Regions from separate parts of the Homo sapiens genome. Here regions 2, 3, 4, 5, 6 and 7 are each linked to region 1. Evidence: fine-mapped expression QTL. A gene starts in region 1. Each other region holds a variant in brackets. All regions are shown on one strand. Distances are from middle to middle.

What was found. PIP is the estimated chance that this variant, and not a neighbour inherited with it, causes the effect. A credible set is the group of variants that fine-mapping cannot tell apart.
Region 2: its variant is the best candidate, but not a certain one, in a credible set for the expression of FAM107B in blood mononuclear cells (TOPMed, PIP 0.78).
Region 3: its variant is the best candidate, but not a certain one, in a credible set for the expression of FAM107B in spinal cord (GTEx, PIP 0.63).
Region 4: its variant is the best candidate, but not a certain one, in a credible set for the expression of FAM107B in coronary artery (GTEx, PIP 0.84).
Region 5: its variant is the best candidate, but not a certain one, in a credible set for the expression of FAM107B in whole blood (INTERVAL, PIP 0.66).
Region 6: its variant is the best candidate, but not a certain one, in a credible set for the expression of FAM107B in tibial nerve (GTEx, PIP 0.79).
Region 7: its variant is the best candidate, but not a certain one, in a credible set for the expression of FAM107B in macrophages after interferon gamma (Alasoo 2018, PIP 0.74).

The regions. Positions count from the first base shown.
Region 1 is chr10:14,772,707-14,776,774 of GRCh38, reverse strand. It overlaps FAM107B (family with sequence similarity 107 member B), which reads left to right and starts at 1,878. Exons shown (of 5, transcript NM_031453.4): 1 at 1,878-2,522. The coding sequence starts at 2,112.
Region 2 is chr10:14,509,514-14,513,581 of GRCh38, reverse strand. No RefSeq gene overlaps it. Among named protein-coding and RNA genes, the nearest start is that of MIR1265, 75 kb to the right of the region's middle. The variant T/A (reference allele first, on the strand shown) is at 2,225.
Region 3 is chr10:14,546,149-14,550,216 of GRCh38, reverse strand. The region is part of intron 2 of FAM107B (family with sequence similarity 107 member B); the gene reads left to right. Among named protein-coding and RNA genes, the nearest start is that of MIR1265, 110 kb to the right of the region's middle. The variant T/C (reference allele first, on the strand shown) is at 2,206.
Region 4 is chr10:14,733,309-14,737,376 of GRCh38, reverse strand. All of the region lies in intron 1 of FAM107B (family with sequence similarity 107 member B), which reads left to right. Among named protein-coding and RNA genes, the nearest start is that of FAM107B, 40 kb to the left of the region's middle. The variant G/C (reference allele first, on the strand shown) is at 2,300.
Region 5 is chr10:14,555,339-14,559,406 of GRCh38, reverse strand. All of the region lies in intron 2 of FAM107B (family with sequence similarity 107 member B), which reads left to right. Among named protein-coding and RNA genes, the nearest start is that of MIR1265, 120 kb to the right of the region's middle. RefSeq lists a silencer at 283-577 and enhancers at 1-647, 3,003-3,062, 3,297-4,016. The variant A/C (reference allele first, on the strand shown) is at 2,177.
Region 6 is chr10:14,617,329-14,621,396 of GRCh38, reverse strand. The region is part of intron 2 of FAM107B (family with sequence similarity 107 member B); the gene reads left to right. Among named protein-coding and RNA genes, the nearest start is that of FAM107B, 160 kb to the left of the region's middle. The variant A/G (reference allele first, on the strand shown) is at 2,012.
Region 7 is chr10:14,694,426-14,698,493 of GRCh38, reverse strand. The region is part of intron 1 of FAM107B (family with sequence similarity 107 member B); the gene reads left to right. Among named protein-coding and RNA genes, the nearest start is that of FAM107B, 78 kb to the left of the region's middle. The variant T/C (reference allele first, on the strand shown) is at 2,466.

The DNA of each region.
Region 1 (4,068 bases):
ACCCACTGAGCGAGGAGAGGTGGTCCTCAGAGCCCGGATGCAAGCCCAGGGCCTCCGCAGACCTAGAAAGTGGCTCTGAGCTTTCTTCCTCAGCGGTCTCCTGAATGTGGCCGCTCGCAAGCTGCACTGTGAACTGCTGACTCTCTGTTCCAAAAGGGGCTTGACACATAATTGAATGAATATATGAATGAGTGAATGAAACCAGGTGTAAGAGTGCATTTTTCTTTTCTTAAATCCCTTCCTGTTACCTCCAAGCCTTCAAAAATGTCTTATGCAGCATCACAGCCCCGATTTACTATACGTGTGCTTGGAGGGGCACAGCATGGCACGACCCGACCCGAGTGGACTGTAGCAACCAAGTCAAATGGGAGACAAAGTGCAGTTCCGAGGGGTCTCCAGGAATATCTGGGAGGGGGGACCCTGGTAGAAACCTGAACCCCCTGATTTCTTATGGGTGGGGAATTTGGACAGCTTGCACTTGGGACACAATGAAAAAAGAATGAGCTCACAACCCTGGGAAGCCAGAAACAGCTTGGATAGCACGGGGCCTGCCACACGGTAACCTCTAAATAAATGGAAGCTTTCTATATTCTAACTTTCAGTAGAGACTAAAATAAAATGTGCATTTGATGCCATATCCACTCATTCTAAAGCCATATCTGCCTTTTTGTATTATGAATATGACTGTCCATTTAGAACAATATTTCCCGTATGGCCATTACATCTATAAAATGATTGTTAGATAGAATGAGACTCAGAGGACAGATAGGAGAACAGGGATCTCGGGCACCCAACAAGCCCTTCTTAGTGGCATAAACTTGCCTTAGTCACATGAAATTTCAAAGAATTGGTTTCTGCCTCTGTAAAACGGGAATCAGTGCCATAATATAATAACTACCACCTGTCTGGGCCAAAGAGCACATCTTGACATTAAATTAAAAGAGAGAGCAAACAAATTAATTAAGAGTGGGTAACATGCCCAGAAATCTTGACCCTAAAATCACTATTAACGGTAAAAGCATTACAGTATTACATTTCTATAACATTCCTAGCAGACAGTTGGCTAAGGAAAAATCTTGATTCTGAATTGTCTTAGAATATGTTTATAATTTATTATTTTTCACCATTCACATATTAATGTGTTGAGAAACAGAAGATCTATGTTCAAAAAGGAGTTACTTTCTGAAAGTAGGTGATATATACCATATAGGTAGAATACTTCACATGTACATAATACCTCCACACATAATAACATAATACATAAGGATAATTGTTAATGTAGGGCTCTCTTTTTTCTTTTTGGTATTGTTGAAAACTAATCAAGAACTTAGCCTAGCTAGTAAAAAAAAAAAAATCAAATTACCAAAGACCTATTTATAGTTATCAGAAAAGGCAATGTGGATCCTGAAACCAGGAAACTTGTTTTGAGGGTGGGGGGAAGATTCCGGGAAGATTCCGGAAAGATCCCGAAAAGTCCAGAAAGATTCAGAAAACACATCACACCGCATCTCTCCAGGCGAAAGATTGAGTCTACCTCCTATTTTAATAATGAAACAGCTGCTAGGGTCGTGGCCCTTCTAGGGGTCTTCATTTGTGATGGACAACTGGGTCGTTTTTGTTTTGTTTGGGGGAATAAATATTTGAAGGGGGGTAACCAAAGAAGGTTTTGCTGCTGTTATGATGTTATTGATACGCAGGCTGACGCTATTATGGCAGATGCTATCAGGCTACATTATCTTTATGCCTCCTAGGTAACCTGAAGCAATTGTCTATTGACTTGGCACTACCCTACCCTGAAGCGTCTGCCCTGCCTAGGAACTGTAACCGGAGCCACTCACATGCCTCCCCAACAGCTTTCTTTAGCCACTGACAGCATCACAGAAGGAAGAGCGCGAAATTGCCCAGGATGGACACTTTCAAAGGGGCCCCAGCGGCTAAGTGACTCTCAGGGAAGGTGGCCTTGCCATCCCAACTTCTATTTAGGGGCAACCACTAGCAAGTTCTTCTCTTCGGGCAATTGGAAAGAGTTCCTATAAGCAAAGTGGAGGTGATGTGGACCCCTGGAAAATTTCCTTGCCCCGTTTGAACTTTGCAATGATTCACTGCAAGTCATGTCCACGTGGAAAGCAAGACTCACCAAAAGACTGAAGTCTCCCTCTAGAAGCATGCATCCATTTCCGTGCTCAGCTCTGCTCGCCTGTTTTGGGAATACGAGGGAGAGTGCTTCCTTCAATCAGTCCGGCGTGGCTGATACTCATTCCACCGTCCGTGTGCAGCCTGTGGCCAAAGCAGGCAGACAGCCAAGACACCCAAGCGCAGAAGGAGCTCCAGAGAAAAGGCAAGATTCGAGCACCCATGCAGAGAGAAATGGCAGTGCGAATCGGAATTCAAGTCACCGCACTGCGGCCCAGCCCGCGGAGACGCCTGAAGATGTGCCCGGGTCCCTGGATGATGGGGCGGACTGTGAAGCAGTGGTGTTTCACGCTTCCATCCCCAGACCATCAATTATTGACACGCCCAAGGTGAGTGAGTGTTCGCTCTGCGATTATAGACGGGATGGAGCTGGAGGAGCGTTGGGATCATGTGGCGAATGTTTCAGCAAACAAACTCATTTAACCTTACTGAATAAGGCATTGCGGGCGTTCTCACTAGTGCGAAGAAGTGTGTTAAAGCCGTGTAGATTCTCAGAGTGTTCTCAAAAGATGTGGATGAGGCAATGATAATAAGCACTGGAGCCATGGCAATGACCGAAGGTAACCTTGAATTAACGGGCTAGGGTGCCTTAGAGCCAAAAATGGCTCACTCAATAACAGATTAGGAGTAAGATAGTTTACAAAAACATTTTTTTCCTTTTTCTATTTCCCCCTCCACCCCCACCGGTCTGTCAATTTATTTATATGAAAATCCACAATCTAAAAAGTTTGGCTAGGGAATTCACAAAACTGCCTCTACTTAAAATGAATCACATGATATCAAAGCAGTCTGGAAAAATTTGGAAATGATCATCAGTGTATGCCTAGTGGTACGGAAGGGAACTGACCTATAAAACTATTCATAATATGGATGTTTTTGTGATAATCTTCTGAGAGTTGAAGGCAGGAGGAGGAAGTTATTTAAAAAAAATGGTGCCACTGCTCTTAAGAGTTATTTACTTATTTTCTTTCCATTTTTGGCATCAGTGAATTTTAATTGTTGAGTATTCTGATTAGATGGAGCTGTACAATTATTTCAAAGTTCCCGGTAATCCCAGTTTGCAGATGCAGTGTAGAGGAAAGGTTTTCTAAAAGGTACACTCCAAAGATATCTCTTGACCATTTTTGGTCATTTCCTAGCCAAGTAGCTTAGGACCAGACTTAAAAAACTGAGAAGTCTTTGGGGATCCATCACTAAAGTATTCTGATTTTTTAAATCATTTTTCCACATCCGTTTAACAAATTATTTTTTGGTCTGGCTTGCTTCACAGAATCTAAGAAGCCTCCTTAGCAAGAACACAGCCAACCAGCAAAGATAGGGTTAAAACATCATTTAAAAAATAGTTTCATTTGACACCCTGCAGGTTTATATGAAATGACTGAAGCTTGGGTCTGTCGTCTGCATTCTGAAATTGGACAGAGAGTTTTACCATATCCTCTGTCACAGCAAAAACTGCTATGTTTTTTTCTAGCACCACTAAACCAAAGCCCATAACCAACCAGCAAAAACCAAAATTTTCAGTGTATAGCCACATCCAGATTAAGATATTTTTGGTAGTATTATAGGTAGCTGATTAGAATTCATGGCCAAGTTGATATTTGTTGGATATTTATGGTACCAATGATGTACAGTTTTAATGAACCGGAAGACTTTCTGTTGAGCAATGCAGACCCACCTTATATTACTGAAGACAGCCGCAAGAACAAAGGGTTACTTTGATTTTATCTTTCTGTTTTAGTTGCACATGGGACTCAGGGACTCAAGGCAAGCATGTGAATTCAAATAGAACCAATAACACAAAATGGGGCCACATCCATGTTTAGTGTCCACTTGGCAGGAGCAAAGCCATGGGTGGTCCACAGCGTAGGATGGATT
Region 2 (4,068 bases), 260 kb after region 1:
TCCCTTTGAAAACTGGCATATTTATTTTTATATTCTCCTACATATTCTGTTATACTGTCCTTTCTGGGCTTGCAGTAATTTTACCAAGACTAAAAGGAAAGAAATCCCCCCTCAGGCTAACTGAAGGAGCAAGATCTGGGTTCTTGACTGATTCTTAGGATGGAGGGCCTGGCAGCACAGTCCACGCTGCTGCAGTCATGGGCCATGGGCCCTGGACAAAGTCCTTCGTTAAAATTAATTCTTCCTTGCTTTGTCATGGAATTTTTAATATCTTGCCATTTCTTCTTTCATTTAGGAAACTTGGTGTCCTTCCCAGAAGTGGATGCTTTCATTTTGCATAGTCAGCCTGACCTACTCATTGTCTTGCCTTTTTATGATCTGTTGATCTTGTCCGTTAGTGTAATCGAAAACTTACATATGCCTGTGAATATCTCATGTAACTAGGATCATTTTGAGATTTTGTCTAGTAGAACCATCAAGTCTGTGTGGTGAACGCTTGTCCCTGAGATATTTGGCTATTTATTATCTTTGGACATAACTGCTGGATCCTCTTTTATTTGTGATCACATATGATCAAGTAGACTCCTTTATTTGTATTTATTATATGTGACCACTGATGACGATTTTATTTTGTTTTTTTGAGACAGAGTCTCAGAATTCTGTTATCCAGGCTGGAGTGCAGTGACGCGATCTTGGCTCACTGCAGCCTTGACCTCCCAGGCTCAAGCAATCCTTCCACCTCAGCCTCCCAAATAACTGGGACTACAGGCATGCACCACCATGTCTGGCTCATTTTTTTTTTATTTTTTTTTGTAGAGACAGGGTCTCACTATGTTACAGCTCAGGCTGGTCTTGAACTCCTGGCCTCAAGTGATCCTCCTTCCTCAGCCTCCCAAAATGCTGGGATGACAGGTATGTGCAACTGCGCCTGGCTTCTTTTGTCTGTTTGTACTATGTTTTTCTAGTTTATCTTATGATTTTGTTTATTCCTATAAGGATAGCTAGAAACAAACACATGTCTATGGTTTATGAAAATGTATATTCTTCATACAACATATAAAATGTCCACACATATATGAATAGTCCCTTAGCTATATCCTATAATCATCTTAATTTTGTATTACAACTCCTTTTTCTCTTGGAGTCTCTATGAATGTGTGTCCCTTTATAGACTCACCTTATAATTTTCATCTCCTTTTTTGGATGCTCAGAATATTACAGCTTGACTGGTGGAAGTCCTTCAAGCTTATTCTTTTGTTTTTGTGGGGTTTTGGTTTTTTTAAAAGTAAAATATTGCTTTTGACAGTTATGGCAGCATCCTTACTTTGTTACAACAATAGGATGTTTGGGGCCATCCTAATTTTTTTTTTTTTTTTTTTTTCTGACGCAAGACATAGGACTGTGTGCCTTTCAAGAAGTCCTGGTTTCTTTTTTGATGAAGAGTAGAAACAGAGATGATCTGGCACTAGAGGTGCACAAGAGAGTTGCTAGTGGACAAAAGTGTCCTTGCACCTGTAGTAATGACAGAGCTAAAGAATGTGAACTCATCCTTGTTTTTCCATTTCAACCCTTTATGTGGTTCTACCTTATTTTTCTTATGAGATCTTATTAAACCAGAAATATTTCCATTACACTTAGAAAGATTAGTTGCGATATTTTCTTTACAGATAAGAGTTATGAAAGGGAATTTACCAGACCAGATACCGAAACACACCTTCAAGCAACAGTAATTTAACTGGCCCAATATTGTCTCAGAGAAGACAAATTGTTCAATGGAGTGGCATAAAAAGTCCAGAAAATGACTGACTTGCGTGTCAAAATTTACAATGATTGAGGTGGGATTTTATTTCAGATCAGTTAGGAAAGGGTAAACAATTCAGTGAAAAGTTTTGGGGCAACTGGAACGAAACAAATATATATTCCTCTACATAAGAATCATTTCCAAGTTTATTAGTGTTCAGCATAAAAATAAAACTGTAGAATTATTAGAAGAAATTATAAGGGAATATTTCTATAATCCTAGTGTTGGAGGAGGCTTTCCTAAGCATAACATTTAGCCCAAAATCTATAATGAAGAAAACTGACAGATTTAACTAGTGAAAATTAAATGCTTTTGTACAAGAAAGATGTAAGAAAGGTTAAGTGTCACAGACTAAGGCATATTACATATACAGCAATACCTGGATTACATACAGAATGTCTGTAAATGTTAATCCAGTAAAAA[T/A]ATATATATATATGAACAGGTAATTCACAGAAGATGGAATACAAATTGTCGATCAACATATGAAGAGATGCTCACTCACTACTATCAGGAAAATGCAAACTAAACCAACAACGAAGTAACTTTATACAAATATTCACAAGGCAAATATTTAAAAGACTGATAATAGCTATGGTTGGTGAGGATGTAGAGAAGCATGTATTATATATACAACATCAGGGGAAGTGCAAATTAGTAAAGCCAATTTAAAAACATATTTTCACATGCTCTAGAATGGATATAACAAAAACGATATACAAATACAAGTGTTGACTAGGATGTGGAAAACTTGAATCCCTTGTTTTATTGCTGGTGAAAATGTAATGGCATAGGTACTTTGGAAAAGTTTGACAGTTTCTTAAGGAGTTAAACAGATTTATCATATGACCCAGCAATTCCGCTCCTAAGTATTTACCCAAGAGAAATGAAAACATACAACCACACACAGAGTCTTGCGCACAAATGTTTATAGCAAGATTATTCATAATAAAGTGTGGAAGAACCCCAAAGGTCCAAGAATTGATAAATGGACAAGCAAATGTGGTATGGCCACACAGTAGAATATTCTTCAGCCATAAAAAGGAACAAAGTACCAATAAATGCTACAACATGGATAAACTGTGAAACAATAAAACTTAAAAAAGTGCACATATCTTTTGACACGCCAATTGCATTTCTAGGAATGTGACCTTAAGAAATACTTATGTGCATAGAGATTGTTCTTCAAAGACATGTGTGGCCAGGTGTGGTGGTGTGCACCTGTAGTCATAGCTACTCTGAAGGCCAGGGTGGGAGGATCACTTGAGCCCAGGAGTTCCAGACGAGCCTGGGCATCATAGAGCAAACATTTGTTGGGCAAACATTTTTTGTCTCTAAAAAAGAAAAAAAGAAATATTTACAGCATTTATCATAATTTATCTTGCAAGCACCCTGCTTATCTAGTAGTAGTTTGCTAGATTAAGTCTAGTACATTCCCATTCTCTTTATGGACTATAATGCAGCTTTTAAAAGAACAAAATATATTATTATACATATACATAAATAAGGCTTTGAAGCTATACCCCATGAATATGTACAACTATTTTGTATCCAAAATAATTAAAAATAAAAAAATTATAAACTAAAATTCCTGAAAATAAGTATTGACCCAAATAGCCTATAAACTGAAAGAGAAAATGATATTTCTCTTAGAACACACTTTCATTTTTCTCCCTGAAGAAACCTGAAAACATTTATGGACAGACCTTTTTGTTTTTCTGTTTGGATTGACCTGAAATAAAATTTTTATTATCAACAACAAAAAGCAAGCTGTGGAACAATAGACATATGATCTCATTTATATGAAAAAAATTTTAAGTATTCATATCCATACATCTATACAAATGCTTGCAAATAGGACTGGAAGTTTACCCAACATATTAACAGTGGCTACTTCTAGGGGAGGGAAGGAATTTAAGGCCAGAAATAGAGTGGCTTCTGTATGTAATCTGCATATTTGTGATCTTTTTTTTTTCCCAAGACAGGGTCTCACTGTCGCCCAGGCAATGAGTTGATCACAGCCCGCTGCAGCCTCAACCTCCCAGGCTCAGGTGATTCTCCTACCTCAGCTTCCCGTGTAGCTGGCACTACAGGCACTCGCCACCACACCTGGCTAATTTTTCTATTTTTTGTGGAGACGGTCTCTGACTATCTTGCCCAGGCTGGTCTCAAACTCCTGGGCTCAAGCAATTCACCCTCCTCAGCCTCCCAAAGTGCTGGGATTACAGGTGTAAGCCACCGCGCCTGACCAATATCAGTATGTATTTAAA
Region 3 (4,068 bases), 230 kb after region 1:
TTACTGCAGTAGTCCTAAATGATCCTTAAAAGCATCCTGTTGGAGTCAAGATAAATCGGATCACTTCACTTCTATAGGATCTGGATTATGACTGATGTCTCTGTTCCTCATCACTAAAATGAAGTGGTATTTCTCGAAGGCCTCTTTTAACTCCAGAATTAGATGAATTTTTGAAATGTTGAATATTTTCTAAAACAGCCTCCTTTCCATTCCCGTAAGAAAAACGGTTGTTATGCTCTATAGACATGTGGCACCCGATGTCTGGGTATTTACCAGTGAGCTCTTTGTTTTTAGGCTTTCATCATTCTGTGTTCCTTGTTTGCCAAGTAGGATGCTCACTTGCAGGATGCGGTCATTTTCCCATTCAGCTTTTAAGTTTTCCTGTGTCTGTTACTGTCCATACAGATAGTGAAAGGCTTCAGCTGAGTCCTGTGGGGAGATCACTTCGAGTTTCTGGGTTTGGGTGTGCTGTGATGGGGTGACTGAGATCACTGTCGGTGGTGAATGAACGGTCTCATGGAGCTGGGGTTGCCCTGCTTTTGTTTACTCGTGACTCTACAGGGCAGCCTGTGGGAAAATGGCAAGGCTTGGCGTCCTGGAACCACAAGCCTCCAGAGGGAGTTGAATTAATGTGCAGAGTTGAATCAGGGAAAGTTCAGAGGCAGTGTAGTTTACTCCCTTATTCCAGTACCCACACTCACTACAAATGTGTTTACATTTAAACTTTTGCCAAAGCCCCCTTAGTTTAAAAGGGAGGCTTCACATAAATGGAAAAGCTGAGGCCAAAAGGCCTAAACTTCTCTCATCTTTATTGCTTATTGCAGCTTTTATTATAGATGCTGCGAGTACTCAGCACTTCTAAGAAACTCCGATTGCTCTTGTTTCCCTTTCAGCTTGGAGCTGGGATCCAGAGTAGTTAACTGAGGGGCCTCGCAAGCCCCTTGTCAGGAGGATGGCCTGCCTTTGAAGGCAGTTGACTCTTGTATGTGTCTTAGTCTCTTTAGGCTGCCATAACAGATGCCACAGACTGGGTGGCTTAAACAATAGATGTTGGTTTCCTCACACTTGTGGAGGCTAGAAGTCCTAGATCAAGGTGCCAGCAGATTGGGTTCCTGGCTTGCAGACAGCCGTCTTCTCATTGTGTCCTCACATGGCATTGAGGCTGGAGAGTACAGGGAGAGAGATTGAGAAAGAAGGAGCTCTGGTCTCTTTTCCTCTTCTTATAAGGACACTGATCCCATCATGTGGGCTGCAGCCTCATGACCTCATCTAAACCTAATTACCTTTCAAAGGTCCCACCTCCAAATACTGTCACTTTGGGGGTTAGGGCTTCAACATAGGAATTTTGGGGGGACTCAGCATTCAGTCGGTGTGTGTGTGCGTGTGTGTGCGTGTGCATGTGTACTTGTAGAGGAGGGTTGATTGTCCACCTGACAGCCGTTGCCATCCCCTCTTCCCTGCTGGATGCCAATTTGCATTTTTCTGGCACGTTTTGCGGCTAGAGTGGTCATGTGACACTGTTCTGGCCAATGAGGCGATGGAGGAAGGCCCCCGGGGGCTTCTGGGAGTGCCTGCCTTCGCAGCTGGAGAGAGCCCTCCTCAGGGGCTGTCTCTGCCTTCCCTTCTTCCCATGTGTATCTGGGGCAGCTGAGGCAGGGCTAGGAGAAGAGCCCAGGTTCCTCCTGCCACCTCCAAGCGATGAAGCAGCCCTGGGCCAACTCCAGCATTCTCGTGTGAACTGCAGAGGAGCCCTGCGCTTCCAGCTACTTGCAGCCAGGTGCTGTTACCTACGCCCCACGCACCCTCACAGACCTGTGTACAAGGGCACAAGTACCTCCCCTGGAGCTGGCAGGAGGTGCAGTCGGAAGAGCATCTGGTCCCTGAGGCCTCCCTGTGCCTCCCCCTGGACCCCCAGGGTGTCCGTGTTCCCAGTTGTTGACCCTCGGGTGCGTCTGTCGCGTCTGCTCTCTTCTCCTCCAGGCAGGGAGCTCCTGGACCACGTCTTGCTCCCCTCTCGATCTTCAGGCCCACCCTGTGCTCCCCCGTAGGAGACATAGTAACTGGTTCAGCCAACCAGGTTAACTCAACCAGCGAGCGCTGTGGGTCCTGGTCTTGCTGACAGCTGTTGCTTTACTCCTTTCTTGTTTTTGGTGTCCTCCCTGCGAAGCCTGCGTATTGGTTGTTCACAGAAAGCCCACCAGGTGG[T/C]CTGAAGAGAGGGAAGTGGGAAAACAGACTTTAATTAAAAGGGCCGGGGCCATGGAAATAGCTGTTCTCTAGGGTTTGGTTAGAGACAGACAATCCTCCAAAGACCCAGACAGAGATGTGTCCCTGTCCTCACGCTCAGTTTTCATTGCGGAAGCAGAAATCAAATAAGAGCCAACTTAAATTCTTTTAATTATGGAACATTTTAAGCCTACAGAAAAAACACATCATTGTTACCGTTGTTTCTGGCATTAAGGTCTCTTTTTTCTTTTTAAGAGTGAAAAATGAAGTTTTCCAGACAAACCCTTAACTAATTCAGTATTTCAAAAGTGAAATACAGGCTGAACATCCCAAATCTGAAATCTGAAATGCTCTAAAATTCAAAATTTTTTGAGCACTGACATGCTGCTTAAAGGAAATGCTCACCGGAGCATTTCAGAGTGTAGATACTCAGAAATATTCCAAATATGCTAAAATTGGAAAAGCTTTGAAATCTGAAACACTTCTGGTGTTTCGGATAAGGGATGCTCAACCTGTAGTGAGTGAGTGGTTGGAAGTTAGAACATATTCTTCTGTAGAAACAAACCTGTTTGACCCACAATTTGGCCAATATACGGAGATTTGAGATGAAAAACTTACAAAATGATAGAATGACTGGCTGTCATTTTACCAGTAAGGAAACAAACCCAGAGAAGTGAAGTCAGGATTTAGGTTTGTGGACCTTTTATTTAAGGTTCTTTCTACTCTGCCATACGTTACTAGTGACTTCAGACAACAGTGTCGAATCTCATCAGCCAAAACCCACCAGGAACACAACGTGTAGTTATACAGAAGTTGGCTTCGTTTAGCTTGCTTCTGCCGGGGCCAGTGTACCCAGAAGAACCCTGGGACTATTTTGGAAAGGCAGACTTGGGGTTGTTGTTGGACTGGGTGATTTGAAGGTGGAATTAGGGAAATGGGACCAGATCTGGGTTGGATGTGGCCAGGAGGCAGAAACAATTCAGTGATTGGGTATCCAACAACTTTTATCTAGGAGGTAGGAGATTAAAGTAGAGTTAGAGTGGCCATGCAGTAAAGAATTTGCAATCATACATGTTGGTGAGAAAAGGGGGCATCTGGTTATTTTTGTGGTAGTAATGTGGGCCCATCTGTGTCCGTTTTTGAGCATTCATTATGTTCTGATGGGAATATGGGGGTCAGGTTGTCAATTAGACTGGTCTTTACTTTGAAGGTCGGTAGGGTTGAATTTAATTTGTTCACCAACTTACTTAATTTCATTCTGAATGCTGATGCTTGAGGAATAGGTTTTAATGGAGCAAGATGCAGTGGGAAGTAGGGACTTAGAGGATGTCTAAATAACCGTGTCTGAGCAGTCACTGGTTTTTAAACATTGTAGCTGCTCAATGGTAATAATGCAAATTTTAAAAAAGGCAGATGGGTAGTTTTCGCCTAGCTTGAGAAGCTTTAAAAATCATCATGACGACTGTACTATCTTAAAACGTGATCAGCTATAGAAGCAGATAAAACTGTCGAGCTGTTATTAAAGTGTACTTACAGTTGAAACATATTAGTCTTCAAAGATGCCATCCAGTTACTGATCCAGAGGTAATGTTAATGGTGGTGTTACTCACGGTGCCAAAACACCCACAGATCAGTAGAAAATGTGGACAGTCAATTTAGAAAATTTGCAAAGCAGTCAGAAGTGAGAGGCAGTGTTGGGTAGTGAAGAGTGGACCAGACTCCAATCTTGGTCCTAGTCCGAGCTTTGCCACTGTGTGGTCCAGAATGTCTTTGCCACTCTCTTAACTTAGTCATTTCATCTCTCTGGGCCTCAGTTTCCTCATCTGTCATAATGAGGAAGTTGAA
Region 4 (4,068 bases), 39 kb after region 1:
CGTTCTGAAGTGCTCCCATGAGTCACTGCACCTGGCCTAAAATGTTTTTTCTATGGAGAGGAAATGCTTTTTTCCCTTCTTCTCCCCTCTCCACTCCTCTCTTTCTCTCTCACCTCCTTTTTCTCCCCATATCATCCCAACTCCCCCTCTGTAATATATGAATAAAAGAGAAGCCCTACAAGCCTAACAAAAGAGCCCACTGTAAGGCAGAGATGAATGGAATCTCTCTGCTTTTTCTCAGAGCGCTGACAAGATCTCTGGCTTGGTGGTGCTCCGAGAAATCCTCTTAGCTCCCTTGTTTTTGCTTCCTTCATTTCTCCTTCCCTTTTCCTTGTCTGTCTCTGGGCTCTCAAGCCTTCATACTCCCCGCCTTCCTCAGGCAGTGAGGTCTGCTGTGTGGCCTTTCCCCAGACTGCCAACAAGGCCGCCTGGTGTCGGCTTCCTATCTGAGTGCTGGGGGACAACATTATCAAGGCTTCAGTGGGTCTCTCTGCAGCTCTAAACCACAACATTCAACTGCTGTTCTGTTTGCATGATTTCACATTGCAGTCATTGAGAATCTATTTTTAGATGACCCTTTCAAAATTCTACTGTCGAATGTGCTGAAATAATACTGCTTGCTTGTGATTGGACATAAATCCCAGGAATATTTACCCCTGGCCAGAGTTAAAGTCACTTTTTGGAAATGATCAGTTAATGATTTATGATGTTTATACTTAGTGAAGGTTTTTCATGGATCTTGGACTCAGAAAATAGCATTGATTTATAGGACCAATGAAGGAGATTGAGTGATAATGTGTTTTTCTTGTTTTTATTTTTTGGTAATGGACTTACTGTTCTTACATAAAGTAGTATTCACTTTAGTGCAATAGGCTGAAGAGTACACTAAGGATAGAGTCTTAATTATGAGTCTATAAGAAAGCCATCCCAAACAGTTTGGCTTGTCCCTTAGATTGAGGCGAACTACTCAAATCACCAGAGGTCTGCTATAAATAGGCTGACAAGTTGATGTTAACATATTGTGTCTTTTAACTTTCATAAGCAACCCAGTAGAATATGAATTTTGGATTCTACCTGTGTTTTTCTTCAGCTCTGCCTGTCTCCTGACTTGTGACTTTGACCTAATGACTTCCTGTCTATGGACTTGTGTCTTGAAAACTAGAGAACAAACTGGAGATCTCTCAGTTCCCTTTCAGCTTGTCCAGTTTAAGGCTGGCTACCATAATATATTCTGGAGGTACATGCTGTTTTAGAGACTTTGCCACACAGGGGGACTGCCATCTTTTAGGACTTCCATCTTTGTTATCTGCTCGCTCCCCCTCTTCTTTTCCCTTTTCCCTTTTCCCAGGCACCATACATAAAATCTCTCATGATATTTTATTGCATTTAACCTATAATCATTCCCTACCTTCCTCTTAGGTTTCTTGTAATAATAAAACATAATAGATACATAATAGCCCTTTGGGACATTTTAGTACTGTAGAGATATAGTAATGTCACTAGGAAATGTAGTCATGCTAACCCCAAATCTTAGGTGTGACCATGGCTACATTTCCTAGAGACGGAGTGTAGACCCCACTCAGTAAAGCTGGACAATCGCAGATCCCTGGGAGTTGACTATGAAAGGCTTTCCAGTGTATGCCCTGGCTCAGAGAGGACTGGCAGAACTCCAGCTACTCTTCTGCTTTAAATTCTATGAAAAGGAGTTTTCCCATTCTTCCTGAACAGTGCAGGCCAATGCTTTATCCCCTTGCAATTGGAGAATTTTTCCTAGAGTCATTCTAAAGCACGCTATCTTTTGTCCTAAATGTTCTTGCTTATCTGTTAATGATGCATTTCACCAAAATGGACCTGAAACCGAAGTGCCGTCTCCTCTACTGGGCAGACAGACATCCTGAGGAATCATCTTGGAGGCCACCAATTGACTTTCAGCAAAGGCCCACCCCAAAATAGCTCCAACAGATGAGTATCTACCACAGGTGTCCAATCTTTTGGCTTCCTGGGGCCACATTGAGAGAAGAATTGTCTTGGGCCACACATAAGATTCACTAACATGAATGATAGCTGATGGGCTAAAAAAAAAAATTGCAAAAAATCTCATAATGTTTTAAGAAAGTTTATGAATTTGTGTTGGGCTGCCTTGAAAGCTGTCCCAGGCCCCATGTGGCCTATAGGCCATGGGTTGGACATGCTTGATCTATCCTATCACAAAAGGCCGTTGGCTCTTGAGGAATAAATTCTGCTTATTTTATCCGCTGGAATGGACAGGACCTCAGAATGGACACCGAATTATGACCTA[G/C]TTTTGCAAGAGAAGCCTGGAGACAGCAGGTGGATGACATCTTGCTGGACACCTGCAAGTGTGGCAGCTGATGCAGGCTGGCTCGAGACTCACTCTGCTGACTTGGCAGATTCGGCTGGAACAGATGGGCCTCTATGTGCCAGGGGAGGAGATTGCGTATATCAATTTGTTTTCTTCAGGGGATTTATACAACTGTGTCCACTGCATTTCACTACCAAGGTACTTGACAAATGAACTATTTAAAAGCACAAAGCTCAGTGAGCCAAGATCGCGCCACTGCACTCCAGCCTGGGTGACTGAGCAAGACTCCATCTCAATAAATAAATAAATAAAAGCACAAAGCTGTAAAGTAATGCCAGGATCAGTGGAACATTTATAGACCCAAATTGTCACTCCGCTTGAGCAATGGAGGTGTGCCCTAAGTTCTGGAGCACAGGTCCTGCTCATTCTTAGTAATCACTGGTACAATTCAAAGGTGTCCAATCTTTTGGCTTCCCCGGGCCACATTAGAAGAAAAGGAATTATCTTGGGCCACACATAAAATACACTAACACTAACGATAGCTGATGAGCTAAAAAAAAAAAAAAAACCTCACAAAAAGATTTCATTATGTTTAGGAAAGTTTATGAATTTGTGTTGTGCCACCTTCAAAGCCGCCCTGGACCACATGTGGTCTGTGGGCTGCAGGTTGGACAAGCTTGATTTAGTAAATGCTTCCAACTCCCTATAGGTCAGGATGGGCCAATGTAAGGGCAATATAATTGGGCTGCAGTTGGTGCGGGACAGTTCTGGTGTGGATGAGAGCACCACTCATTATCATGGAAACCAGGCAATTTTCCCCCAGTGGCTTATTAAGCCATGATGCAATGGATCTTTGATTCAATGTGTGGCAGGACATTTATTACCCTTGTTATCGTAACATTGTAATCTCATTACAAATTGATTGGCATTGTTTTCAGAACAAGAAGTTGTATATATTTTTTTTTAAAGGAAGTCCAAATGTGCAAGCTTGAACAAATCTAGTCCCAAGTTTATGTAGGTGTGTTTGGCAGCCCATGTATTAATTCAGTGGCTCAAGAGTTGAACACGTTGCTTCGGTACCTGTTCTCCTCTCAAAGTCCTCTCTAAATACCAGGTGCCCAGAAACTCTTTTCAAGGACATTTGTTGAAAATACTTCCAAAGGGTTTATGCAGTTAATATGGCCAAATGAAAAACCTGTTCAGGGAGAAAATGTGGAGAAGCAGTGTGGTTTGCTGAGAAGAAGATGGGGTCTGGAATCAGACAGAGTTGGACTTGAGTCTTGGCTATTTACTCACTGTTTCATCTTGGGCAAGTTGCATAGTCTCTTTGAGCTGCCAATTTCTCCTTGTTAAATGGAAATGATAAAACCTGCCTCCCAGGGTTGTGAGAGAAATAAGTTAGACAATAGGAGCTGAATTAACCACAGTTTACCTTATCATTATTTTGGACGACCTTTCTCCAGTGCTATGGGTATTTATTCTAATATTTAAAAGCCCCATGATATATCATTTGACAGTATAATTTCCTGGTTGAGACAGACAGACTGGTGTCACTCTACCCTTCATTTAGGAACTAGTTTATCATCATGGGTAAAACAAGCGTATCTTACTGGATATCATTTCTACTTAACATCATTTTAGTCAGGTTTGTATGAAACTTGGTGGCATTTTGTTAACAAAAGATCTCAGTGATCTTTGCATGATGCTGACAAAATTGAAGTAAAATGTGATCTCCGTTGATGAAAAAT
Region 5 (4,068 bases), 220 kb after region 1:
GCAGGTCTGCCAGGACCATTTATCACCTTGTCCCTGGTACTCAGACCTCGGTGCTGGCAAAGCTGGGCTCATGAAGGCTGGCTGCGCAGGTGGGTGGCTGGCTCACGCGCTTGGTCCTGGAGGTGGGGGAGAAGAGATGGTCCACCAAATGGTTCTTGCAGTTCTCCCCGTCCTGCCCTCTGGACATGGCTGTGTTGTGGCACAGGCCGTGTTGTACTTGTGGCTGATCTTGATCGATTCTCTTCTCTGCTCCCTGTGCTGGAGCTAGACACCAGGTGTTTTTTTTTTGTTTTTTTTTTTTTTTTTTGAAGTTCCACAGGTGATTTTGATGTGTGAGCCGTGGTTGAAAGCCACAGCTGGACTGCGTTGGAAGGGAAATGGAGGTCAGCTTAGGCCAGTTGGTTCACATGGAAATCAACAAAACCAGCGTGGCTTTGAAGGATGTATAATTCTGTTACTCTTTGTTGGACCCACACAACTCAGCAGTTGAAATTTATTATTAGTTTTTTTTTCTCCTGCGTTTTCATCTCCTAATTTGGGCTCCCCTTCATATAGAGCTTTTGGAAGCAAGTAAGAATTCAAGTTCATCAGGCACATTTTCACTACACCTGGCAGAACATATTAAGGTGTTGTGTTTTATAAAATCCAGCCAGAAACTATAGGTGGTCTCCAGCTCCACACACTTAGCAAGGCCCCTGCTCAACTCCCCACCCAACCCCAGTTTTCCAGTCCTTCCTGCGTTCACCAGAGGCACAGTCAGGATCACCTTAGACGCTGAGTTCAGAAATGGAGAAGGAATACAGTTAAAAAAAAAAATCAAGATCAGGTGAGCAGTAGCCAGATGGCTTCTCCACACAACTCTCTTTCTGGATGCTTCTGGAAATTGCCATCCAATTTTGGTCATTCTTTTGGCTGTATAATAATTCAAACGGTGCTTTGTGAATAAGTTACCTTTTAAAAGTTATGCATTTTAGCATCTATAGGAAGGTCAAGGAATTATTTTACACCTCAGGGTGAAATAATTTAATTAGGTATCTTGTTTACCCTGAGTCTTCTGAAAGCTAGAGGGAGCAAATTGGAGCTTTTGAAAGAGTGTGTGTGCGTGTGTGCGTGTATGTGTGTGTGTGCGTGCACGTATGTGTGACTGTGCGCGTGCACGTATGTGAGTGTGCGCATGCACATGTGTGTGAATGTGAGCACGTGCACGTGAGTGTGTGCACACACACACTGGTGGGGAGGCAGGTGATGATGGGTTGTGTCATGAATGCCCAAGTCTGGCGGTGCATTTAATGGAGTAGTCCAGGGAAGCAGGAGGAAACTGAGGAACAGGGAGGGCAAGCTTGAGGAATTAAGGAATTACCTGGACTCACGGGGAGGAGCTCAAAAGACGAATTCGATCTTTTTCTAAAAACATTTTAAACAGTAGTTTGCCTGACTCCAAATCAGGAAGAGACAGCTTTACCTCATCTCTCCTGCCTCCTAGCCTGTGGGCTCCATTAGCAAGGGATGAACTATCGAGTAAGAGCTGGCACTCTGGCATCAGGTAGACCTGGCTGGGACCTGGCTGGGTCCTGGCTAGGCCCCGGCTAGGCCCCTCCAATGGCATCACCATGGGCAGGCTGCTAATCCCCCTGGGCCTCAGCTACTCCTCCGTCAATAAGGATAATAATACCTCCCTCGCAGAACTGTTGTGAAGGTTGAGATGAAATATGAGAGTGTTTAAAGCAGTGCCTGGGATGCAGTAAGCACTTCGAATGTTAACCAGTAGTAGCAGTCATATTTTTGTGGATTACCTGGGAACCAAACCATCATCATTGATATAATTTCTATTACCAGTTTTAAACAGTTAAATGACAAAGAATCCCATTTTAATCAAGACATTACAGTAGAGCACAGACCCAACCTGGTTGGGTACTTAGTAGGGAGAAATAGAGGCTAGAAATTAATAATTATGCCCAATACCAGTGAACAGCTGTTTTCGCACTGTGACCAGTTTAGTACAAATAAAAATGTTTATAGACTGCATCTTTTCTCCATGCACAATTTATTGAGGTATTTCATCACTTTAACAGATGATAATTGAACATTTAGAATTCCTAGCCTTGAAGATCCAGCGAGGTACAAACCAGAAATGGCCCTGGCCCCTAGGTAGCTAAATATCTAGAGGGGAGAAGAT[A/C]AAAAACACACATGGGGCTGGCAATAAATTAAACAATTACAGATGGTGAGAGTTGGGAAACAAGCTTAGGACAGAGACTGACCACGGAGGGACCCGTGTTGGATTGTTGATCCGAGAAGGTGATGTTGAAATACAGACTGAGAAGGTGAGGAAGAGCCAGGGGTCAGGAGAAGTGTGGGAAGGGGGCTGGCTTGGGAGGGTCATGCGCTCCAGGTGGGGACATCATGTGCACCAAGACATGCAGCCCAGAAAGAGTTTGGTGTGTTCCAGGAATGAAGGCAGGCCTGTGTGGCTAAGGCGCAGGGAGCAAGGTGGCGGAGAGACTGGCATGAGGCATGAGAAGCAGGCCCAGGTCAGATCAGGTGGGGAGTGAGGGCCGCTGCCAGGGCATTGGAGAAGCTATTGAGAGGCCCTGACAATCCCATGGGGGGAAAGTCCATTCTTAGTGCACGTTTCCTGCTTTGAACTTTTTCTATTCAATAACGAAAACCTGGGTGCTATATTTGTTTTAGCCACAAAACTATCTGGGTATCTTTGAGAAGTGGCACTTGCTGAGGTGGCCTTCTAAATCTTTGCCTGCTGTTCCATGGCAGGATGCCTTGTGAAGCCAGGTGTGGCTTGTGGCCTAGATGGACCAGGGAGATCTCAAGTGAGGGGCAGTAGCACGGAGCACACAGTAGGTGTCAGTCAAGTCTAAACGTTGCGCACGGCTTTGTTTTGTCCAGAGCTGAGCTCTCGTTAGGTCGGGGCTTGACAAATATGAATATTGTGGCCTGGGCTGCTCTCTGGCATGCTGAGTGCTGACTGGTGTATTTCCTTTTTCAGCCAGAGAATCCTGGTCAAGCCCTGAACAGTCCAGAAACTCTGAGGTCAGCATTTCTAGATCTTCTGTGCATTTGGGAGGAGTCACCATTGATGACTTTATCAATTGTAAATTTCCGATATCAAATTACTGGCCTTCCAGTCAGTCGGTTCTGATGACAGGAAGGACGAGGGCTCTGGAAAGTCACTTTAAGCTAGTCATTGTTAGTCAAATAGTGCTGTTTTTGTATATCGAGTATTGAGAAGGGAATGTGCTTGGTCTGTCTTCTCTCTCTGCTTCGTCACCTGCCAGTCCTGAGGGCCCCAGGCAGCAGTGCAGCTTTAATGTGGATTCCTATGGATCAGAGGTGTCCTAGGGCTCACGTTGTTATTCTGCATTGCACTTGCAGCCAGGTAAAATCAGATTTCTCCTGTTTCCCCTTTTGGGGGTGGGGTGTGTGGATTTGAAAGGCCTGTCACGTGTGGCCTGATTGCACTGCCCAGTGTGTGTGTGTGTGTGTGTGTGTGTGTGTGTTAAAGATGTCTGCAAGTTTAGCACTGGCCTGTCCTGATTAGTGAGGACCTCTGATTGCCTAGGCCAGGGCTCAGGTGAGAATACTTTGATGCTGAGGGGTAAACTTGCCTTCTGAAGGCACAGAGCCTCCTGGGTGGCAGAGCAAGGACTGGGCCTGGCGTTTCTGACGTTTAGACCTGTGTTCTTTGATAAAGCCATGATGTTTAATTGTGGAGAAAATGGTTCTGCAGCAGATGCAGTGAGGAAACAAATAATGCCCAATTTTTCCAAGTCACTGAATCAAATCTTTATCTCAGAAGTGAACATTTTAAGAGAAAACAAAATTTATTTCTTGCTAATGGCGTGGGAACAACTTATTTAAAAAAATGAGAGTGAGCAAAATAAAACTAGATTAAAGACAGAAGTAAAATGTTTAGAATAGTTTGTTTTATAATCAGGCATTAAATTATGTCAGTGGGAGTATGATTCCAAGTTCATAATGTCATCACTACTTAATTAAAATAATAGATGTCTTTGTAAGTCTGCTTTTGTTAGATAATATTATTTAATCCAGTAG
Region 6 (4,068 bases), 160 kb after region 1:
AGATCTAGAATCAAAGAGTCTGCAGTAGGAGTCAGTCACAGAACACAAATAACAGGGCCACAGAATTTTTCTGTTAAACAGAAAAAGTAAGAAAGGAGTCTACATAATATAAACAGCAGTTTAATGTTGCTTTCAAAACATCGAAATGTGAAACCAAATCTCACTCTCCTCACTGGCTGTGGACATGCCTCTTCCCTGAAATTCCCTGAAAAGAATGCCAAATTTAAAAAAACAGAGAACCTAAGAAATAAAATGGTCTTTATTGCAAAAGTCATGATTATCTACATTAAAAATCCCAAAGAACTATTTAAAAAATGACTAAGAAATATAATATGTGAGTTTGTCAAGTTCATAAGATACAAGGTCAATCTGTGGGAATCAACTGTATTTTTAAATACAAGCAATAAATAATTGGAAATTGAAATTCTAAAAATGTATAATTTACAATAACATCAAAACCAAGAAATACTTAGGGATTACTTTAACAAAATGTATGTAAGGTTTGTATGCTGGAAAGTACAAAACATTGATAAGGAAATCGAACAAGACCTAAATAAATGGAGAGATATACTATGTTCATGTGTCAGAAGACTATATATTAAGACATCAGTTAAATGCGGCATGTTCTCACTCATAAGTGGGAGTTGAACAATAAGAACACATGGACACAGGGAGGGGAACATCACACACCAGGGCCTGTGGGGGGATGGCGGGCTGGGAGAGGGATAGCATTAGGAGAAATACCTAATGTAGTTGACGGGTTGATGGGTGCAGCAAACCAATATGGCACGTGTATACCTATGTAAGAAACCTGCATGTTCTGCACATGTATCCCAGAACTTAAATTATAATAATAAAAAAAATACAGTAAGCATTTTGAAAAAAATCAGCGTTATTCTAAAATGTATATGAAAGCAAAGGGCCTAGTACAACCAAAATAATTTTGGAGAACAACAAAGTTAGATGACTCACAAAACCTGAATTTTAGAGTTACTGTAAAGTAATACAAATAAGAAAGGGTGGTGTTGATGAAAGGTTAGATATACAGAGACATGGAACAGGATAGAAAATCCAGAAATAGGCCAAGCGCGGTGGCTCATGCCTGTAATCCCAGCACTTTGGGAGGCCAAGGTGGGCGGATCACGAGGTCGAGACATCGAGACCATCCTGGCCAACATGGTGAAACCCCGTCTCTACTAAAAATACAAAAATTAGCTGGGCATGGTGGCACGCGCCTGTAGTCCCAGCTACCCAGGAGGCTGAGGCAGGAGAATGGCTTGAACCTGGGAGCGGAGGTTTCAGTGAGCCGAGATTGTGCCACTGCACTCCAGCCTGGCGACAGAGCGAGACTCCATCTCAAAAAAAAAAAAAAAAAAAAAGAAAGAAAGAAAGTCCAGACGTAGATAGACACTTACACGGTCAACTGATTTGCAACAAAGCTACCAAGTTCATCAATGTATAAGACATAGTCCTTTCAAAAAGCAAACAATGGAACATCTGTATACTAATGAAAAAAAAAGAAATTCAACCTTTACACCATTGCCTAGCACCATATGAAAATATTAATTTGAAATACGTCATAGACCTAAATGTAAGAGCAAAAACTATAAAACTTCTAAAAGAAAACATAAGAGAATGTAATTGTGTGCTTAGCTTGGGCAAAGGTTTTTTTTTTTTTTTTTTTTTTTAGCTAGGACACAAACACAAATCGTAAAAGAAGGCATGGATAAATAAGCCTTCAAATTTAAAGTTTTTTCTTCTTCAAAATACATTGTTAAGGAAATAAAAAGAGAAGTCATAGATGGGGAGGAAATATTTAGAAAACACATGCCTGTAAAAGAACTCTTACAACTTATTAAGAAAATACACACAACCAATAAAAACTGGATAAAAGACTGGAACAGAAGCTTCGCTAAGGAAGATATATGGATGACAAATAGCACATGAAAAGGTGCTCAACATAATAAGCCATTAGAAAAATAAAAATTAAAACCACTCTTCACCTATTAGA[A/G]TGGCTAAAATGAAAAACACTGCTAGTGTCGACTGCTGATGGATCATAGAACAACCAGGACTCTCATGCATTGCTGGTGGGAACGTCAATATGGGCACTTTGGGAAAAAGTGCCCATTAAGTGAAATGTACACCGACTGACCGTACTGCCTTATTTTCCTAGGGTTGCTGTAACAAAGTATCGCAAAGTGAGTGGCTTAAAACAACAGCAATTTATTTCTCGCACTTCTGGTGGCTACAAGTGTTGGATGAAGGGATCTACAGGCGGTGCTCCCTCTAAATCCCTCTGAAGCTCCCTCTGAAGGTTATAGGAGAGTTTCCTTCCTCATGTCTTCTAACCTCTGGTACTTGCTGGCAATCCTTGGCACCCTTTAGCTTATTGATACATCACTCCAATCTCTGCCCCTGTTGTCACAAGACCATCTTCTTCCTGCGTGTCTGTTTCTGTGTCTCGTCTCCTCTTATGAGGATACTTACCAGTCAGATTAAGGGCCACCGTACTCCAATATGACCTCATCTTAATTACATCATCTGCAGTGACTATTTTTTTTTTAAGCAGTCTCACTCTGTCGCCCAGGCTGGTACCCAATGGCATCATCTCGGCTCACTGCAACCTCTGTCTCCCGGGTTCAAGCGACTCTCCTGCCTCAACTTCCTGTGTAGCTGGGATAACAGGTTCACACCACCATGCCTGGCTAATGTTTGTATTTTTAGTAGACACGGGATTTCGCTATGTTGGCCAGGCTGGTCTTGAACTGCTGACCTCAAGTGATCCACCTGCCTTGGCCTCCCAAAGTGCTGGGATTACAGGCATGAGCCACCAAGCCCGGCCCGTAATGACTTATTTCCAAATAAGGTCACATTCGAAGACTGGAGATTAGGCCTCAACATCTTTTTGGGGGGCGTGGGGGCAAGGGACAGAATCCAACCCATAATACCATACAACCCGACAGTCCCACTCCTAGGTTTTTACCCAAGAGAAATGAAAACATATGACATATGTTCTCACACAGACCTGTGTGAGATGTTTATAACGGCTTTATTCATAGTCACCCCAAACTGCAAACAAGCCAAGTTCATCAACTGTAAATGGATAAACTGAGATAAACAATACAATGGAATACCACTTGGAAATAAAAAGAACGAATTACTGATACACCCAAGAACATAGAGAAATCTCAAAAGCGTCTTGTGAAGTGAAAGCAGCCCTGAAGGAGACTGAACTGTATAATACCCTTCATGTTGCATTCTGGAAAAGGGAGAACTATGGAGCAAAAATTGCAGAGACTGTGGGTGGGGAGGAGGGAACTCACCACAAGGGGACATGAGTCAACTTTTTTAGGTGGTGAAATATTCCCTATGATAATTGTGGAGGTGGTTACACAACTGTATTACATGAGTCAAAATTAATAGATCTGTAGACTAAAAAGAGTAAATCTTACTGTATATAAATTTCACTTCAAGAAGCTGGGTTTGGTGCTTCACGCCTGTAAACCCCACCTCCCAGCTTCAAGCAATTCGCCTGTCTCAGCCTCCCAAGTAGCTGGGAAAACAGGCATGCGCCACCATGGTAATTAGGCACCAAACTCTGGGTCATGGGCCTGTCTCAGGCCTTTTTTTTTTTTTTTTTTTGGCGTCTACCTGAAACTGTCTCTAGTTGTTTATTCTTTACTCCTGACCGGACAGCACCTTCCTAGATGCAGCAGTGTCCTTTCTTCCCTACCAGGACAGCTTGCTCTTGCTTTACATGTGTTGAAGCTCTGAGCACACAGTTTTACTTTTGTCTCTGCTCAAACACAGATAGCCACTTACGTGTTTCATCACTTCTAAGCAGCCATCAATTGTGAAATTAGGATATCTTAAGCTTCAGATGCCAGAATGTACAATTTTATGTTAAATCATATTCAGTTTAGACCATTTTTGAAAAGACAGTGTCTCCTGAGTGGCTTGACTCCTTGTGAGCAAGACCCAGGCTCTCCCTCACTTCCTGTTGCAAGTTTGAGAGACATGTATCCTCTCCAGGGATTAAAACCAGTAAGGCCCCCCTGCTCCACCTTC
Region 7 (4,068 bases), 78 kb after region 1:
TATTAAGCATAAACAGTAAATATTTGGAGAAGATTAAGTTTAAAAGTTTGCAAATGGTTTCCAAAAGTCTCCAGGACACAGATATTCAGAGAATCCTCCCGGATTAGCAGAACTTTGTTCACCCCTGCCAGTATCACTTCTTTCTCCTTTTGCTCAAATCACTCTTTCAGTTGGGCCTTTGATCACAGAATTAGAAAGACACAGGAATGGACCTCAGTAGATTTAGACCTCTCTTCTAGCAAAACCACAATGATTTAAGTTGGCTTAGGAGTACTACTGCATGAATGATTTGTTTTCATGCATGTAAAAATTACTCTGAGCATACATTATTTTAAATCTTGGTGTTGATATTTCTTCTTTTTTTTTTTTGAGATGGAGTCTTGCTCTGTTGCCCAGGCTGGAGTGAAATGGCATGATCTCGGCTCATTGCAACCTCCACCTCCTGGGTTCAATCGATCCTTGTGCGTCAGCCTCCTGAGTAGCTGGGACTACAGGCACGTGCCACCTAGCCCAGCTAATTTTTGTATTTTTAATAGAGATGGGGTTTTGCCATGTTGGCCAGGCTGGCCTCAAACTCCTGATCTCAAGTTATCCACCTGCCTTGGCCTCCAAAAGTGCTGAGATTACAGGCCTGAGCCACCATGCCCAGCCCTTGGTATCTGTATTTCAAGAACAAAAGTTGAGTTGGGGCTGGGTCACCATGTGGCAAGTGGCCTCACAGCAATAAAGGTACAACATTGTAGAAACAGTCTAGGTAGAGTCCCTTCGAGACTGATGTCAGGAACTCCATGTGCACGAGGAGACAGCAGCTGTATAGGTCTGAGCACTAGGCAATGAATGCATTTTGCAGAGGAATAAAATAGCTTTCAAGAACACCTTTGTATTTGTCCTAGAGGTAAAGTCTTTAGAAAATGTCTATTTCTATTTCTCTCATCTCTGTTCCTTCAAGGCTATCGTAAGAGGAAGAAAAACAGATTCTGGAACACAGTAGTTTACACATTGTTTGCAGCCAAATTTGAATTTGGCCTACAATTAATTCCTGGGCTAGCACGGCAAACTTTCCAATTACATAAATGCAGAGCCCTGCATTATTTCAAAAACACGTGGTACTTGCTCTGAAAATGATTCCGGATTCCAGGCCATGGAAAATCTGAAGGAACTGTTCTGCCTCCATTTCGGGGACCTGGTTAAGTTGGGAGAAGGCTGGGTTGGGGGGTCTCAGGAGAGGAGGAGAGGACGAAAGAAGAGTTGGCTATGAGCTGATGAAGCGGCAGAGGCAATGTGGCAGCCCTTTCCAGCTCCTCTTTAAGGGGCTGAGATTTTTACGTCCTTGCACTCCATAGCCTCAGCCAGAGCCCCAAGCACAGAACTGGCTCCCCATCCAAGCTTTGAGCCAAAAAGCGTGCACTCTAATGACCTTTCTCCCTGTGCCTCCCCATTTTTTTTCTCTCTCTCTAGACTGTCAATGTATCAGACATCATCTGAATAAAGTTGTTAGGCCTGGTTGCGTAGTAGTGGGGGTTGGGGACACAGTTGATTCAGGGCCACAGTAAACAGAACAGAGAGGAGCAGACCTTTGACACTTTTCAGAGATGCTAAAGGAGCAAATCACTGAAATTGAACCACAGTGTCCCTGGGCACAGCCTACGGGACCTCGGGGTCTGCTCCCTCATCCCACCCTTCTCTGCAAAGTCAGATTGAGTAGACAGGCACAATCCACATTCAGAAGCATCTGCTGAGTTTGAGATAGACACCTTTCTGAGATTTGTTAACAAGGGACGGAGATCGATGGATATTTTGTTACTGTAAACACACTGCAAACACTGAAGAAGTAATCGAAACCTCCCAACAAAGAAAATCCCAGGACCAGATGATTTCATGACTGAATCCTGCCAAACATTTAAGGAAGAATTTATACCAATACTTCTTAAGTTCTTTACCCCCCACCACCTCCCCCGAAAAAATAGAGCTAGAGAGAATACTTCCAAACACATCTTATGAGGCCAGGATGCTTGGTACCTAAGCCAGGCAAAGACATTACAAGAAAACTACAGGTCAGTATCTCTGATGAATACTGATGCAAAAATCCTCAATAAAATATTAGCAAATAGAATCCAAGAATACATCAAAAAGATTTTACATCATGACCAAGTGGGATTTATTCCTAGCATGCAAGCCTGGTTTTAACATATGCAAATCAATCCATGTAATACATCACATTAACAGAATGCGAGATTAAAAGCCACATGGCCACATGGTTACCTCAGTTGATGCAGAAAAAGCATTCAGCAATGCTCAACATTCTTTCTTGATATAAACTCTGAACAGTTTAGGTACAGAATGAAAGTTCCTCAAAACAGTGAAGGCCATCTAGGAAAAACCCACAGCTAATGTTATAATAAATGGGGAACAACTGAAAGGTTTTTCACTAAGATATGGTACAAGTTAAGGATGCCCACTCTCAC[T/C]TCTTCTATTTGACACGGTACTGGAAGTACCAGCAAGAGCAATCACAGAAGAAGAAGAAAGAAAAGGCATCCGAATTAGAAGAGAAAAGTGAAATTATCTCTATTTGCACATGATATGAGCCCATATGTAGAAAACCCCAAAGATTCCACACACAAACAAACTGTTAAAACTAGTAAGTGAATTCAGTAAAGTTGAAGGATACAAAATCAACACACAAAAACCAGTAGCATTTCTATAAATAACAACCTAGCTAAAAAATAAATTAAGAAAACAATCTTTTCTATGATAACATCAAGAAAGTACTTAGGAATAATCTTAACCAACAAGGTGAAAGATTTGTACACTGAAAACTATAAAACATTAGTGAAATAAATTGAAGATAAAAATACATAGAAAAATCTCTCCTGCTCATGGATTGGAAGAATTAATGGTGTTAAAATGTCCCTACTACCCAAAGGAACATACAGATTCAGTGCAATCCCTATCAAAATCCCAGTGGCATTCTTCACAAAAATAGGAAAAAAATTCTAAAATTCATATGGAAACACAAATGAACCCAAATAGCCAAAGCTGTCTTCAGAAAGAACTGGAGGCATAACACTTCCTGATATGAAATTGTATTATAAAGCTATGTAATTAAACAGCATGGTAATGGCATAAACATAGACACACAGAGCAGTAGAACAGAATAGAGAGCCCAGATATAAATCCAAACACATATGGTCAACTAATTTTCAAAAAAGGCATCAAGAGAACACATGGGGAAAGGAGGGTCTCTTCAGTAAATGGAGCTGGAAAAACTGGATTTCCACATGCAAGAAAATGAAATTGTACCCTTATCGTACAATGTACACAAAAATCAACTCAAAAGGGACAAAAGACCTAAACATAAGACCTGGAACTGTAAAATTCCTGAAAAGGGAAACCGGGGGAAAGCTCCTAGACATTGGCCTTGGTAATGACGTTTTGCATATCACACCAAAAACTTAGGCCATAAGATTGAAAATAAATAAACGGGACTATATCAAACTAAAAAGCTTCTACACAGCAAAGAAAACCATCATCGTAGTGAAACAGCAACCTATACATTGGGAAAAATATACAAAATATATCTCTGATAAGGGGCTAATATCTACAATTTATAAAGATCTCATAAAACTCAATAAAAGAAAAATAAATAACCTGATTTAAAAAATGGTCAAAAGACCTGAACAGACATTTCTCCAAAGAAATGGCCAACATTAATATGCAAAGGTGCTCAGTGTCATTAGTCATCAGGAAAATGCAAATGAAAACCACTATGAAATTTCACCTCACATCCATTAAGATGGCAATTATCAAAAATTCAAAACACGGTGTCCCGCGCCTGTAATCCCAGCACTTTGGGAGGCTGAGGCAGGCAGATCACCTGAGGTCAGGAGTTCGAGGCCAGCCCTGACCAACATGGAGAAACTCTATCTCTACTAAAAATACAAAATTAGCCGGGCATAGTGGCGCATGCCTGTAATCCCAGCTACTCGGGAGGCTGAGGCAGGAGAATCGCTTGAACCCAGGAGGCAGAGGTTGCAGTGAGCCAAGATCACACCACTGCACTCCAGCCTG